Homo sapiens: one gene and its partner. The protein of the gene in region 1 interacts with the protein of each later gene in a biochemical or structural test. Each region holds a gene or a part of one and is shown in the gene's direction. Other genes may lie near its edges.

Evidence for each region. The genes of interacting proteins can lie anywhere in the genome.
Region 2: the proteins of USP9X (region 1) and ZBTB38 form a complex in vitro, tested with the Homo sapiens proteins (one study listed by BioGRID).

What each region holds. Positions count from the first base shown.
Region 1 is NC_000023.11:41,214,438-41,221,458, forward strand, and holds part of USP9X (ubiquitin carboxyl-terminal hydrolase 9X), read left to right. Parts: intron 1-130; coding exon 131-272; intron 273-1,461; coding exon 1,462-2,215; intron 2,216-2,782; coding exon 2,783-2,906; intron 2,907-3,934; coding exon 3,935-4,160; intron 4,161-4,664; coding exon 4,665-4,794; intron 4,795-7,021.
Region 2 is NC_000003.12:141,364,098-141,371,523, forward strand, and holds the start of ZBTB38 (zinc finger and BTB domain-containing protein 38), read left to right. Parts: upstream 1-4,406; 5' UTR 4,407-4,707; intron 4,708-5,774; 5' UTR 5,775-5,849; intron 5,850-7,426. UniProt on the Homo sapiens protein: Transcriptional regulator with bimodal DNA-binding specificity. Binds with a higher affinity to methylated CpG dinucleotides in the consensus sequence 5'-CGCG-3' but can also bind to E-box elements (5'-CACGTG-3').

The sequences.
Region 1 (7,021 bases):
ACGTTGTGGACATGTACCCTAGAACTTAAAGTATAATTTAAAAAAAAAAGGCAAATGTAGTTTACATTAAGTCCATAACTAAAATGTTTACAAAACTAAGGGATAAATCCTTTTTTTAAATCGTTTTTAGGTACGAATGTGAAGAATCTTTTACGACCCTAAACGTAGACATTAGAAATCACCAAAATCTTCTTGATTCTTTGGAACAGTATGTCAAAGGAGATTTACTAGAAGGTGCAAATGCATATCATTGTGAAAAATGCAATAAAAAGGTACGGGCTGTCCAGTTTTGTTTAATTTTGATTACATTTAATGGATTTAGAAGAAATTGGTTTTTTTGGTTCATCCTCACAAGTCACCCTATTTTTATTTTCTCCTACTTTGGTATAGTGGTAGCAGAGAAGTAGTCAATATGATAACTAATAGAAGGTTTGGCAAGGAAGGAAAAAAAGTAGTGCCAAAGGGGCTAGGTAAATAAGATAAAAATAGGTAAATAAGAGTGAATAATTTTAAAAGTCATAACGTGATAGCACATTCTCTTATATAAGTTACACAGACACTTTCCATCTCTACCGAGAAACAAATTGCCATTGAACCCCTCAAAGATACAGAGCTGATAGAGGAAAACATTTCTCCTGTCATGTCCAGGATTACTTGTCAAGACCAAAACATTTGCTGAAACCATTAATTACTTTATTGAACCACATAAGATTTCTTTTAGACTAGTCAAGTGGCCCATAAGATTTCTTTTATCACCTATGTTATAAAACCATTTATTTTGGAAACTTATTAGCAGTTCTTTGAGAGAGATGATTCACACGCATTATAGTAATGAATAAGGTGTATCTTTGGGAGCTCCCAAACCCTTTCACCCTCAAGTCACTTGTGTTGTTTTGGCCTTATGCACCACTTAGAGAAGTCCTGAAGTTTAAAGATTGAGATTGTGGGCTGTAAAGCCATACTGCCTGCCACCTGCAGCTCCTGAGACCTGAGGCAAGTTACTTGACCTCTCTGTGATTACTAGTTTTCATCTTTTAAGGTTCAGTAGTACACACTTGAGAAGGTTGTAAGGATTCGGTATGTTTTTACTTGTGCGGCACTTAGTATATATTACCTGGCATCTGAATTACCCAACAAATATTAGCTACTCTTATTGTTATTGTAGTTCTTTGGTTTGTGCATAGGAAACCACCTTCGTGGGAACAACAGTAAACATCAAACAGGTAATAATGGCTAGATAACAATGACAGAAACCAGTCAACAATTTACCATTTGCATATTATTAATTTCAGCATTTAAATCAGCTGATAGGATTATCTTGATTATGCTCATTGTCATGTATTTGTTTATACTTAAAAATTCAGATAAGTCTTAATATCATTTAAAAGTTTGCTTGGGGTTTTTTTTTTTTTCCTGTGGATTTTAATAGAACATCTGGTAACTTTGTCTTGTTTATTTTAGGTTGATACCGTAAAGCGCTTGCTGATTAAAAAATTACCTCCTGTTCTTGCTATACAACTAAAGCGATTTGACTATGACTGGGAAAGAGAATGTGCAATCAAGTTCAATGATTATTTTGAATTTCCTCGAGAGCTGGACATGGAACCTTACACAGTTGCAGGTGTCGCAAAGCTGGAAGGGGATAATGTAAACCCAGAGAGTCAGTTGATACAACAGAGTGAGCAGTCTGAAAGTGAGACAGCAGGAAGCACAAAATACAGACTTGTGGGTGTGCTCGTACACAGTGGTCAAGCGAGTGGGGGGCATTATTATTCTTACATCATCCAAAGGAATGGTGGAGATGGTGAGAGAAATCGCTGGTATAAATTTGATGATGGTGATGTAACAGAATGTAAAATGGATGATGACGAAGAAATGAAAAACCAGTGTTTTGGTGGAGAGTACATGGGAGAAGTGTTTGATCACATGATGAAGCGTATGTCATACAGGCGCCAGAAAAGGTGGTGGAATGCTTATATACTTTTTTATGAACGAATGGACACAATAGACCAAGATGATGAGTTGATAAGATATATATCAGAGCTTGCTATCACCACCAGACCTCATCAGATTATTATGCCATCAGCCATTGAGAGAAGTGTACGGAAACAGAACGTACAATTCATGCATAACCGAATGCAGTACAGTATGGAGTATTTTCAGTTTATGAAAAAACTGCTTACATGTAATGGCGTTTACTTAAACCCTCCTCCCGGTGAGTATCAAGAGAGTTTAGCTTCTTAGTAATAAAGAATAATTTATAGTAGGCGTCAACATGTTTAAGTTCATAAAATTAATGTTTTCACTTTAAATGAGTCTAATTTGCTGGGTGTGGTGGTTCACGCCTGTAATCCCAGCACTTTGGGAGGCCGAGGTAGGTGGATCACCTGAGGTCAAGAGTTCAATACCAGCCTGACCAACATGGTGAAACCCCATCTCTACTAAAAATATAAAAATTAGCCAGGCATGGTGGCATGCACCTGTAGTCCCAGCTACTCCCTGTAGTCCCAGCTACTCCGGAGGCTGAGGCAGGAGAATCGCTTGAACCTGGGAGGTGGAGGTTGCAGTGACCCAAATTGATGGCCACTGCACTCCAGCCTGGGTGACAGTGAGTCTCCATCTCAAAAAAATAAAATAAAAAAATAAATGGGTCTAAATTAAAGTAGCCTGAGAAGGGTTCTTAACAAATTTAGGACTTCTCAAAATTAATGGAAACACAGACTTGTTTGAAAATGGGGTTGGAAAATAAAAATGTGTTTTTATATCTGCATTTTATTTATAGGGCAAGATCACCTGTTGCCTGAAGCAGAAGAAATCACTATGATCAGTATTCAACTTGCTGCTAGGTTCCTCTTTACTACAGGATTTCACACAAAGAAAGTAGTCCGTGGCTCTGCCAGTGATTGGTACATTGCTTTGGATTTTCATTCCTATTATACTAATGTTTGGTTTGCTTCTTTAATAGATTGCTTTATGTTTTTCTAAACCAAGAGAATTTTGTTTGAAGTTTGGAATATAGAATAAAAACTCTGGGTCACAATAGAGAAATCATATTAAAATAGTTACTTAGTCTAAACATGGCCTTTTGTTATTCAGAAGCTGACTTCTGCTTCTATTACCTTGTATCATATCTTTGACATCCCTGCACCAAAGACTACAAGCTGAGACTGGGGGACAGTGACTCACACCTGTAATGCCAGCACTTTGGGAAGCCAGGGTGGGAGGATTGCTTGAGCTCGGGAGTTCAGGACCAGCCTAGGCAACATAGTGAGACCCCCATCTCTTCAAAGAAGATTTTAAAAATTACCCAAGTATGGTGGCGCACACCTGTAATCCCAGCTACTCGGAAGGCTGAGGTGGGAGGATCGCTGGAGCCTGGGAGGTTGAAGCTGCAGTGAGCCATGACTGTGCCACTGCACTCCAGCCTGGGCAGCAGAGCAAGACCCTGTCTCAAACAAAACCAAAGATTACAAGATGAGACTGAAAAGTGTAAGCTACTTATGAAATTTATTAGGTTTTAGCTTACCTAGATTGAATTCTGACACCGATTAAAAGGGTAAAAAATTAAAATGGTTTTCTTAAGTTTCTAATTGTGAAAGTATAGAGGCCATTATGATACATTGATTTAATAATTTTTACTTACTCATTTCAGGAATATGTCAAGATAAGGGGGTGGTATTTTGTCATTGAATCTAGGAAGAGTTTGTTAATGGATTTTTAGAGGACAAGCTTTCACCTGTTTGGTAACTCTGAGAGAATAGACCAAGTCATAGTATTTATCTATTGTTTTAATATTAGAAGCAACCTTTGCTGGTTCTCTCCAGCAGTAGAGGAAGATCTTTGTCTTTTTTTTTTGGTTCAATGAGACTCATCCTTTTACTATAGAGAACAAGTTATTGACTTAATAGTCATAGGTTTTTTTGTTTTATTTTAGGTATGATGCATTGTGTATTCTCCTTCGTCACAGCAAGAATGTACGTTTTTGGTTTGCTCATAACGTCCTTTTTAATGTTTCAAATCGCTTCTCCGAATACCTTCTGGAGTGCCCTAGTGCAGAAGTGAGGGGTGCGTTTGCAAAACTTATAGTCTTTATTGCACATTTTTCCTTGCAAGATGGGCCATGTCCTTCACCTTTTGCCTCTCCTGGACCTTCTAGTCAGGTAATTGCACAGCTTTCTTTCTAAATGATGAGATGTTTACAAATAAATTGTGTTTCCTGGAAGTCGAAGTCACAAGCATATGTGCATCCACTTGATATGTTTACCTAACAGAAACACACAATATGATGTCAGTGAGTTCCATTTAATATTACTGCATGGCAATGAATAGTAATTATTGGCTCTTTAAAAATGTAAGAGAATTTTCTCTGTTCGGTTACATGCAGTAGCTTAATTATAAGTTTACTGTTAAGTAGATTTTTTCCTATTTTGAAGGTTTTTTAAATAGTCTTAGATTTTTTTAAAAAATTACAAGTGTAAAAAATTATAATGAAATCCGCCTCTGATCTTCATTCCCTTTCCCAAGAAGCAAAATAGTTTAGTTTGTGTGATCAGTCCTTCCATAAATGTATGCCTGTATCAGCATATGTGCATGTCCTTTTTATGCAAGTAGAAGTATACATATACCTTGTTGCTGTAAAACAGGTAATGTTTTATCCTTTACAGGCTTATGACAACTTAAGCTTGAGTGATCACTTACTAAGAGCAGTACTAAATCTCTTGAGAAGGGAAGTTTCAGAGCATGGGCGTCATTTACAGCAGTATTTCAACCTGTTTGTAATGTATGCCAATTTAGGTAAGAATTTAAGTTTTTCAGAATTCTGTTTTGATGTATCATATTAAATTGTGAAGTCATTTAGGTCAAGTGATGAAATATAATCTGATCTGAAGTAGAAACAATTTCCCATAAAACCTGTTGTGAATTTTATCTGAACATGGCACTTTCACCTTTTACTTTGTTTATGCATGTGTCTTTGTGGTAGACACAGGTCAGAATCTGTGTTTTGATTTTTTTTTTTTTTTAATCTCCTAATGCAGTGGTGCCAAATCTGGCTGCTTTTGGAAAATACTGGTTTCTAGGCCTCTTCTCACACTGATTGAATCAGCATCCCCAAAGCTAATGTCAGGGAATCCATGTTTTCAAAGGGGTCCCCAAATGGTTGTGATACTCACCAAATTTAGATAGCAGACTTGGTCTGTACATAAGTTTTTGTTTAAGTAAACTACAATTATGGATAATATAAATACTCGCTTAAAATATTAATTTAGGGGCCGGGCACAATGGCTTATGCCTGTACTCCCAGCACTTTGGGAGGCCAAGGCAAGAGGATTGCTTGAGCCCAGGAGACTAACCTAGGCACCATAGGGAGACCCTATCTCTACAAAATAAAATTTTAAAATTAGCTGGATGTAGTGGCATATGCCTGTAGTCCTAGCTACTTGGGAGGCTGAGGTGGGAGAATCACTTGAGCTAAGGAGGTTGAGGCTGCAGTGACCCGTGATTGCACCACTGCACTCCAGCCTGGGCAACAGAATGAGACCCTGTCTCCAAAAAGCAAACAAACCAAAAAGTCATATATCCAAAATGAAGTTCTATATCCAGGCGTACCTGTCGTTTCAGGTTTTTTTTCTGTGATCTTACTTAATCACCATTGGATCCATGGCCCTTTTAACATAAGGGAGATTGTACTTTTCATTTGTCTATTTAGTTTGTCTTCTTTTCCCTTGTCTTTTCCGTAATTGCAGATATTTGGGTATTTGTAGATGAGAAAGAGAATATTTATTACACAGACAAGCATAAGTGGAATCTGTATTTCAAACTTAAAAATGCCAAATTTAGACATTCAGAAGAATCCTATTCTGTTCAACTCTTTTAGATATTGCCTGTTCACAAAGCACACATCATTGTTCCATAATGTAACCTACTTGTAAAATTTTCCTGCTGAAAACAAATACTGTAGGGCCTGTAAACCTTAATATGAAGTCCTTAAGATCAGATATGCATTGGGATTGAGAATTGTTTGGATTTAAGAAAAGCAAGGCAGTGCATATACCAACATCTCTATAGCAGGGTCTGAGACAACAACTTACAATTGAACACATTAATATTTCTACAGTAAAATATGAATATTTATACTGAAGGGAGAAATAAAGACTATAAGTAGCCTTTAGTCAGTTTGGGCTAGGTTATCCCACCAACCACATTTTGACAGCAACTTAATGAAAAACTTTGTTGGGCTGGGCGAGGTGGCTCATGCCTGTAATCCCAGCACTTTGGGAGGCCGAGGCAGGCGGATCACCTGAGGTATGGAGTTCAAGACCAGCCTGGCAAACATGGCGAAACCCCATCTCTACTTAAAAATACAAAAATTAGCAGGGCGTGGTGGCGGGCATCTGTAGTCCCAGCTATTCGGGAGGCTGAGGCTTGAATCTGGGAGGCAGAGGTTGCAATGAGCCAAGATCGCGCCACTGCACTCCAGCCTGGGCAACAGGGCAAGACTCCGTCTCAAAAAAAAAAAAAAAACTTGTTATAATAATAGCTTTTGGGCCAGGCGCGGTGGCTCACGTCTGTAATCCCAGCACTTTGGGAGGCCGAGGCAGGCAGATCACAAGGTCAGGAGTTCAAGACCAGCCTGACCAACATGGTGAAACCCCGTCTCTACTAAATATACAAAAATTAGCCGGGCGTGGTGGCACATGCGTGTAATCCCAGCTACTCAGGAGGCTGAGGCAGAAGAATCGCTTGAACCCAGAAGGCGGAGGTTGCAGTGAGCTGAGATCACACCACTGCACTCCAGCCTGGGAGACAAAGCGAGACTCCATCTTAAAAAAAATTAAAAATTAAAATAGCTTTTGGAATCTTAGGATTTCAGATAAGAGGTTGTGGACCTGTTTTTATTATGTTTTTGGGAATATGGCAATAAATAAGATTGTCTAATGGGATATAGAAGCAAATAATGTAGTTGCCATAAAATATGTTAATAGCTATAATAGGGAAAATGCAAAGTGCATCACGGGGGGCA
Region 2 (7,426 bases), on another chromosome or scaffold:
GGTATATAAAGAATCCCTAAAACTCAAAAATTTAAAAAAAAAAATTAGGCCGAGTGTGGTGGCTCACGCCTGTAATCCCAGCACTTTGGGAGGCTGAGGCAGGCAGATCACCTGAGGTCGGGAGTTCAAGACCAGTTGGACTTCATCAAAATTAAAAATTTTTATGCTTCAAATAACACCAACCAGAAATGAAATGACAACCATAGACAGGGAGATAATATTGTAAAATATATCTGATAAGGGACTTGTGTCTGGGATATATAAAGAATCCCTAAAACTGAAAACTTTAAAAAAAAAATTTTAGTCCAGGTGGCTCACACCTGTAATCCCAGCACTTTGGGAGGCTGAGGCAGGGAGATCACCTGAGGTCGGGAGTTCAAGACCAGCCTGACCAACATAGAGAAACTCCATCTCTACTAAAAATACAAAATAAGCCAGGTGTGGTGGCACATGCCTGTAATCCCAGCTACTCGGGAGGCTGAGGCAGGAGAATCGCTTGAACCCGGGAGGTGGAAGTTGTGGTGAGCTGAGATTGTGCCATTGCACTCCAGCTGAGGCAATAAGAGGGAAACTACATCTAAAAAAAAAAAAAAAAAAAAAAAAAAAAAAAAAAGCCCAATTTGAAAGATAAAGGATTTGAATAGACAGTTCTCCAAAGAAGATATACAAGTGACCAATAAGCTCCTGAAAACACACTCAACATCATTAGTCATTTGTTAAATGCAGTTCAAAATCACAATGAGATATCACATTGTACCCACTAGGATGGCTATAATAAAAAAGACAGGCAATAACAGCATTGGTGAGGATGTGGGGAAATCAGAACCCTCATAAATTGCTAGTGAGAATGTAAAATGATGCAGCACTTTGGAAAACAGTTTGATAGTTTCTCAAAATGTTAAACATAGTACGATATCACTCAGCAATCCCACTCTTTTGTGTCTACCCAAGAGACATGAATGCATGTCCACAAAAAAAAAACTTGCACATGAATGTTCATAGCAACATTATTCATAACAGCCAAAAAGTGAAAACAACTCAAGTGTTCATCAACTGAGATTTGGATAAACAAAATGTTGTATACCCACACAGTGGAATATTATTTGGGCATAAAAAGGAAAGAAGTACTAAAGTATTCTATGCCTTAGTTCATTTGCTGTTGCTTAAACAGAACACTTGAACCTGGGTAATTTATAAAGAAAAGAAATTCACTTCTTACAGTTATGAAGGCTGAGAAGTCCAAAGTCTAGGGATCACATCTGGTGAGGACCTTCTTGCTGGTGCGGACTCTCTGCCAAGTCCCAAGGTGACACAGGACATTACATGGCAAGGTGGCTGAGAGTGCTAGCTCAGGTCCCTCTTCCTCTTCTTATAAAGCCACAAGTCTCTCTCTTGTGATAACCCATTAATCCATTAACCAATTAATCCATTAATCCATGAGTGGATTAACCACCTCTGAAAGACCCCACCTCTCAGTACTGCCATATTGGAGATTAAATTTCAACATGAGTTTTGGAGAGGACAAATATTTGAACCATATATTGTATGATTCCATTTGTAGAAAATGTCCAGAAGAGGAAAATCTATAGAGACAGAAACTAGATGAGTGGTCATCTAGGGCTGGTAGGTGGGGACAAATGAAGAATGATACCTAATAAGCATGGTGTTTTTTGGGGTGGTGACAAAAAGTGTTAAAAAAAAATAGATTACAAATTACATAATTCTGTAAATACACTAAAACCCATTGAATTGTACACTTTAAGTGAGTGAACTTTCTGATATGTAAATTATACCTTAATAATTTTTTTTAAAGAGAGGGAATAAAATGAGAGAAATCTAAGTCAACAAGTATAGACAAGTCTTCCAAGGAATTCCTTGCATTCATAAAGGTTTGGTTTTAATTACCAGCATTTAACTGCATTTGTTGTAGCAAAGGAGGAGGATGCTCCACTTCACGTAGAGACCAGGGAAGTGCCATTGTACTTACTTCTCTGTATCTCCAAGTGGATATTTTTCCCAGTTCTCTGATTTTATTTTCACTGTTAGTATCAACCCCAGAGCATATAACCCAAGAATCTGTGTCTCACTTAAGCTTACTGATCATTTCTGCTTCTTTTCTTTATTTTTCTGTTCACATTATCCTGATAGGATGCAGGGTGAAGAAATAATCAGCCTCTGTTCATCTTATTAGAGAAATAAATACCTGTGTATATGAAGCAAGCAAGGCCACTGAGTCTTTGGGGAAACAGAGCAGGGAGGTGCCCAGAGGCATTTTCTGCAGAGAAGGAAGAAAAGAATAAACAAGTCTTCTGCCAAAAATGCCTGGAACTTAAAGCGATTTCCTCAGCCCAAGATCAGGCTGTGTGCAGACACTGACAGTGAACCTGATCAGTTGCTGCTGCTCCCTTGATTAAAAGCATGTAGCTTTCTCTCTTGTGAAATTCACCTCTATAAATTCCACCTGCCTAGGGATTCAAACTACATGGAACAAGTGCAATTCCTCAGAGTGGCAACTGGCAGAGCTCCCAGGAACAAGGTAGAACTACACAATGTCCCAGGCATCAGAGGCATAGATTGCCTGAGTCAGGGAGAGTGGTCTCTGTGACCTGACACCCCACCCACAGTGGGAAGGAAAGCTGTGGGTGTGTTATCAAGGAGGCCTCCACAAGGGGCTGGAAATTCCTGGTTTTGTCTTCCTCTTGGAATGAGACATTTACTCTAAGAGAATCATGGAAAAGTACAAACCACAGAATCATAAACCACAGAGGGAGAAGCTACCTCGTAGGTCATTCTTATGCTGGGCCCAGATACCCCGATAAGCAGATGTTCTCTTCTCACCACCCCTCCTCGCCTTTGCTTGCCCACAGCCATTGCCAGGACTCTTCCTCAGGCCCAGAAAGGCAGCTGATTCCTGGTAGGAGGGCGCTAAGAGTAGAAAGTAACTACCATTGTCAGGTCCAGATCTGTTCCCAATCCCTTCTCACTCCTCCTGCACTCTAAAACCACACCACAGTTCCAACTCTTTCTGAGTCTGGAATCTTTGAGAGTGCCGTCATGTCCTTCTTCCTGTAGCCTTCTTGTCCACCCCAGATGGACTGACCCTCCCACCTACATCCATGAGGCCAGAAGGCAACAAAGACAAGCGTGGACTCTGGCTCCCGCCGAGGTACTCTGTACCCCGTGGCTCTCGGATTTTGCATCTACCACATGCCACAGGCTTGCGTCCATCCGACCTCCCTAGTTTCTCATCCCCACTTGAACCTGATGACTGATTCGCCCTCCTGGCTACGCTGAGTAAGCCACCCACTTGCCAAACCTCAGACCTGGTGTTGACGCAGTAAGAAGGCATGAGGCCCATGTTGCCAGAACATTCCTAATTGTTTCATTGTTTCCTTGTAGGATGTGGTTTCAAGTCCCATCTTTGTCTCTTTTCTCCTGGCCAGGTTGCCCTTGGTCAATATTCCTTCATTCACTCCAGCCACTCAGCACCGTGATTAAGAAAACAGGATGTGAGATTAGATGATCCAGGCTCTGCCATGAACTAACTAGCTGTGAGGCTTTAGAGAAGTGTCTTAACCTCTCTGAGCATCCATTTCTTTCTCTATAGCATTAGGAATATTAATAGTACCTACCTCACAGCTTTTTTGTTGTGATAATACCAATAAATGAAATAATCTTCATAAAGCACAGAGGCTTGAATGTTCACTCTAAGTATTTAATATGTGTCCTCTACTATTTTATTTTACAATTATCATTCCTTAATTCATCATATAATTACCAAGCCTCATGCCAGGCACTGAGATATAAATATCCCCTTTAAAGAGTGGTCATGTCTTAAATCCAGGAAGAGCTAGTTCATGTTGGCACCCAGGGTAGGGAGCGAAGCCCAGGGCCACAGCACAGAGGCAGAGGAGAATAGACACTGACCACCAGGAGCTGCCCGGGGATGGTGACAAAAGTGCCTTCCACCTTTCCGCATCTCTTTCAATACCACTGCAACTCCTTGAGTAAGGTGGGCACCACACAGAAGAAGGGGGATGGCAGAGGGGCAGTGAGAGGTCCCCAGGGAAACACCCTCTTCTTCTTCCCTGCTTCTCTGACAGAGCACGGCCATGCCTCTGCCATGCAGGAGGGTGATGTCCTTTGGGGAGGCCTTGTTGAATCTGTCTGGGGCTGTTCCGGAAGTAGGAAGGGCGGCTGGGGGTGGGGAGACGGCAGGAATGTTCTCCTGGCCTGCTGGTCTGTGCCGGCGAGTGTGCTGAGAGGAGGGCCTCTGGACATCAAAGGTTCCTTTTGTCCCCTTCCGAGTGGCAGGGCAGCCCGGCCCGGGCTGCTGGCGATGACTCAGGCCTGGCCCTGACGTCACCCACGCCCGGCCACTGGCCTCCCTCTGAAGCCAGGAAACTAGTTGGGGAGTGGCACTCGCAGCTGCAGCAAATCTCAAAATAAAGAGGCAACGGCCTTTCTCTTCCTCTCCATCTCCCTATAGCACACCTTTTATTTCTTTTCTTCTTTTTTTTAAGCCTCACGAAAGATTTTACTTGTAGATCAACTTTCAAAATGTAGGAAGTCAGAATGGGTGACATCATCAGAAAAATATGTGGAGCTGATCACAAGAAGTGAAGAACCCAGAGCACGAAAGCGGTTGTGACTCCTGGGCCCAGGGAGTTGACAGCGTCTGGGTTTCAGAGGAGCCAGCGCCTCCGAGTAAGTGAAGGCCCACTTTTGGCCCCCCCTCACTCAGCGCCCTTCACCGTAGGGCGCCATCTTGTTCCCTGACGCCTACAGCTTGCCAAGCCCCAGCCCAGAGTTGGGAGTAGGGACTGCATTTGGGAGACCCTCTAAATACGGCCCCAAAGGGATCTGATATCTCTCTCCACAGGATCAGAAAAGAATGCAAAAAAAAAAAAAAAAAACAATACTAAGACGGAAACCCTGGGGAGAACAGCCCAACTGATGCCTTTCCCTGTCAACCCTCTTGTTTTGCCTCCTCTTCCTCCCCTCACCTGAGTATTCCGTTTCAGGCTGTCAGAATGTTTGTTCAGAGTTCTGGATTGTTTGCTTCCTAGATCTTATACTGAGCGATCAGACATAAAAATAAACCCTGTTCTAGGCAAATACGTGTCCTGTGCCATCAAATGGTATTTTCACACTTAACCTGGTAAAATATGACAGCCCTGGTAAAAAGATGTACATAATTGTGCTGCCTTTACTGAGCACGTTTCTGATTGTTCTGTGTATGAACCTCCATTATCTTATCGCCCTGTTTACAGAGGACTTATTTTCATTCCTACTTGTGCCATCGTATCTGGGATGATATTAAGCACAAAGACACAATGTGTCTGTTTTAACTTTGTCTAAAAACTCATAGTTCTTTACAAAGCCTATAATTTCACGACCTCTGGAAGTTCCTACCCAAGAAAGTTAAGTTCCCAAGAGAAAAGTTTTGACACATACATGAGAACAGCACGTAGGCATAGAAATCATACCCTGATTTTCCCGGCTTCTAAGTCATCCCCTGAGTCAGCATCTAGTCTTCGTATAGCTGACGTACCAGGGGAGATCTGTTCTTCAGAAATTCTATGTTAAAATGACTGGGAGCGGGGAGGCGTAAGTCTCATTTTAAAGGCAGTAAGGAAGCTTGTCATTTACTGGAAAACAGTGGCATATTCCTTTGTAAATGGACAACTCCCTTTGGAAATTAACTATCACACACTAAAATATCTGTTTTATAGGCCTTATGTTTTACTTTTTGTTTTACTTTAATATATTAGGTTGTCTTGAAGTGAGGCTCTGCTGTAGTCCTGTTCTTCTGGCTCTAAGATCTGAATGTTGTGACCACTAATTTGGTAAGTGTCATTTGTCCCCAACAGCTACTTAAATTTAAGTCTCCCAATTCTCCTTTTTTAGTTTGTGGTAAGATTCAAAGAAAAGGGGAAAGGGCACAGAGATTTCTGTACACAATGATTACAGCTATATTAAAAAGGATATTAGGATAGGCTAATTGTTATAATAGAACCCCAAATCTATAATGGCTCAAACACAATAGTTTATTTCTTGCTCATGTAACAGTACAGGTCAGTGGGGCAACTGTCTTTCATGCATTCATTCAGAGACACAGGTAGAGAGGGGCTTTGCCTTCTGCAGCATGTGGTTTTCAAGGTCGCCTAGGGGTGTCTCCACTCCTCAGTGCAGTAAGAAAAGAGCATGAAAAAGTGCACATGGGAGTTTTTTATGGGCTCTGCCTAGAAGTGGTGCGTGTTACTTCTACTCACATTCCATTGGCTAAAACTCCATCACATGACCACAGCTAACCACAGAGGAGTCTGGGAAATGTAGTCCTTGGTGGAGCAGCCACTTAGCAGTGACAGCTCTGGAGGGGTTTCTGAAGAAGAGGTAGTTCTCTCTGGCACAGCACATAAAAGAAACTTGGAGATACTCAAGGATAAAGTTGCATAGAAACAGTGGGAGAAGTAAACAATTATCCACATTTAGGTTTTCCTGACTGACACTCTTAGGTAACATCTGGCCATGAGGGCAAGATGCAATGGATGAGATTTCTCAACACCTCTGTCCATTATGACCCTAAGCATCATGTTGCCCATGGCCAGTGAACCATGAAGGACATTTTCCTTATTTCCTTTTACTTATTTTTCCTCTCAGGATCCTCTTGGTCTAGGACTATACTGGCTTTCTCTTCTTCCTGGATCTAGTCATATTAGTTGGAATTGTGACAGAATTCTGCTCCCCCAACTATGAGCCCCAGTGGTCTATAGGAAAGCTCTTGACTTCCTTAGCTCGTAGTTTTCTCTGCTACTGGAGGCTTTGGAAATGTATCCTACAGGATCTGCTCCAGGTCTTGGGACATTTGATCAGGGTGAAAATTCCCGAAGGTTAGACCTTTAAACCAAGTTATTAAACTGTTTTTTCTTTTCTTTTCTTTCTTTCTTTTTTTTTTTTTTTTTTTTTTTTTTGAGGCAGAGTCTCACTCTGTTGCCAGGCTGGAGTGCATCGGCATGATCTCAGTTCACTGCAACCTCTGCCTCCCAGGTTCAAGTGATTCTACTGCCTCAGCCTCCTGAGTAGCTGGGACTGCAGGCACGCACCACCACACCCAGCTAATTTTTGTATTTTTAGTAGAGATGGGGTTTCACCATGTTGGCCAGGATGGTCTCCATCTCTTGACCTCGTGATCTGCCGGCCTTGGCCTGCCAAAGTGCTGAGATTACAGACATGAGCCATAGCGCCCAGCCGAGAAACTTTTTTTTTCTTTGAGACAGGGTTTCACTCTGTCACCCAGGCTGGAGTGCAGTGGCACGATCATGGCTCACTGCAGCCTCAACTTCTCAGGCTCAAGCGATCCTCCCAAGTAGCTGAGACTACAGGCATGTGTCACCATGCCTGGCTAATTTTTGTATTTTTTGTA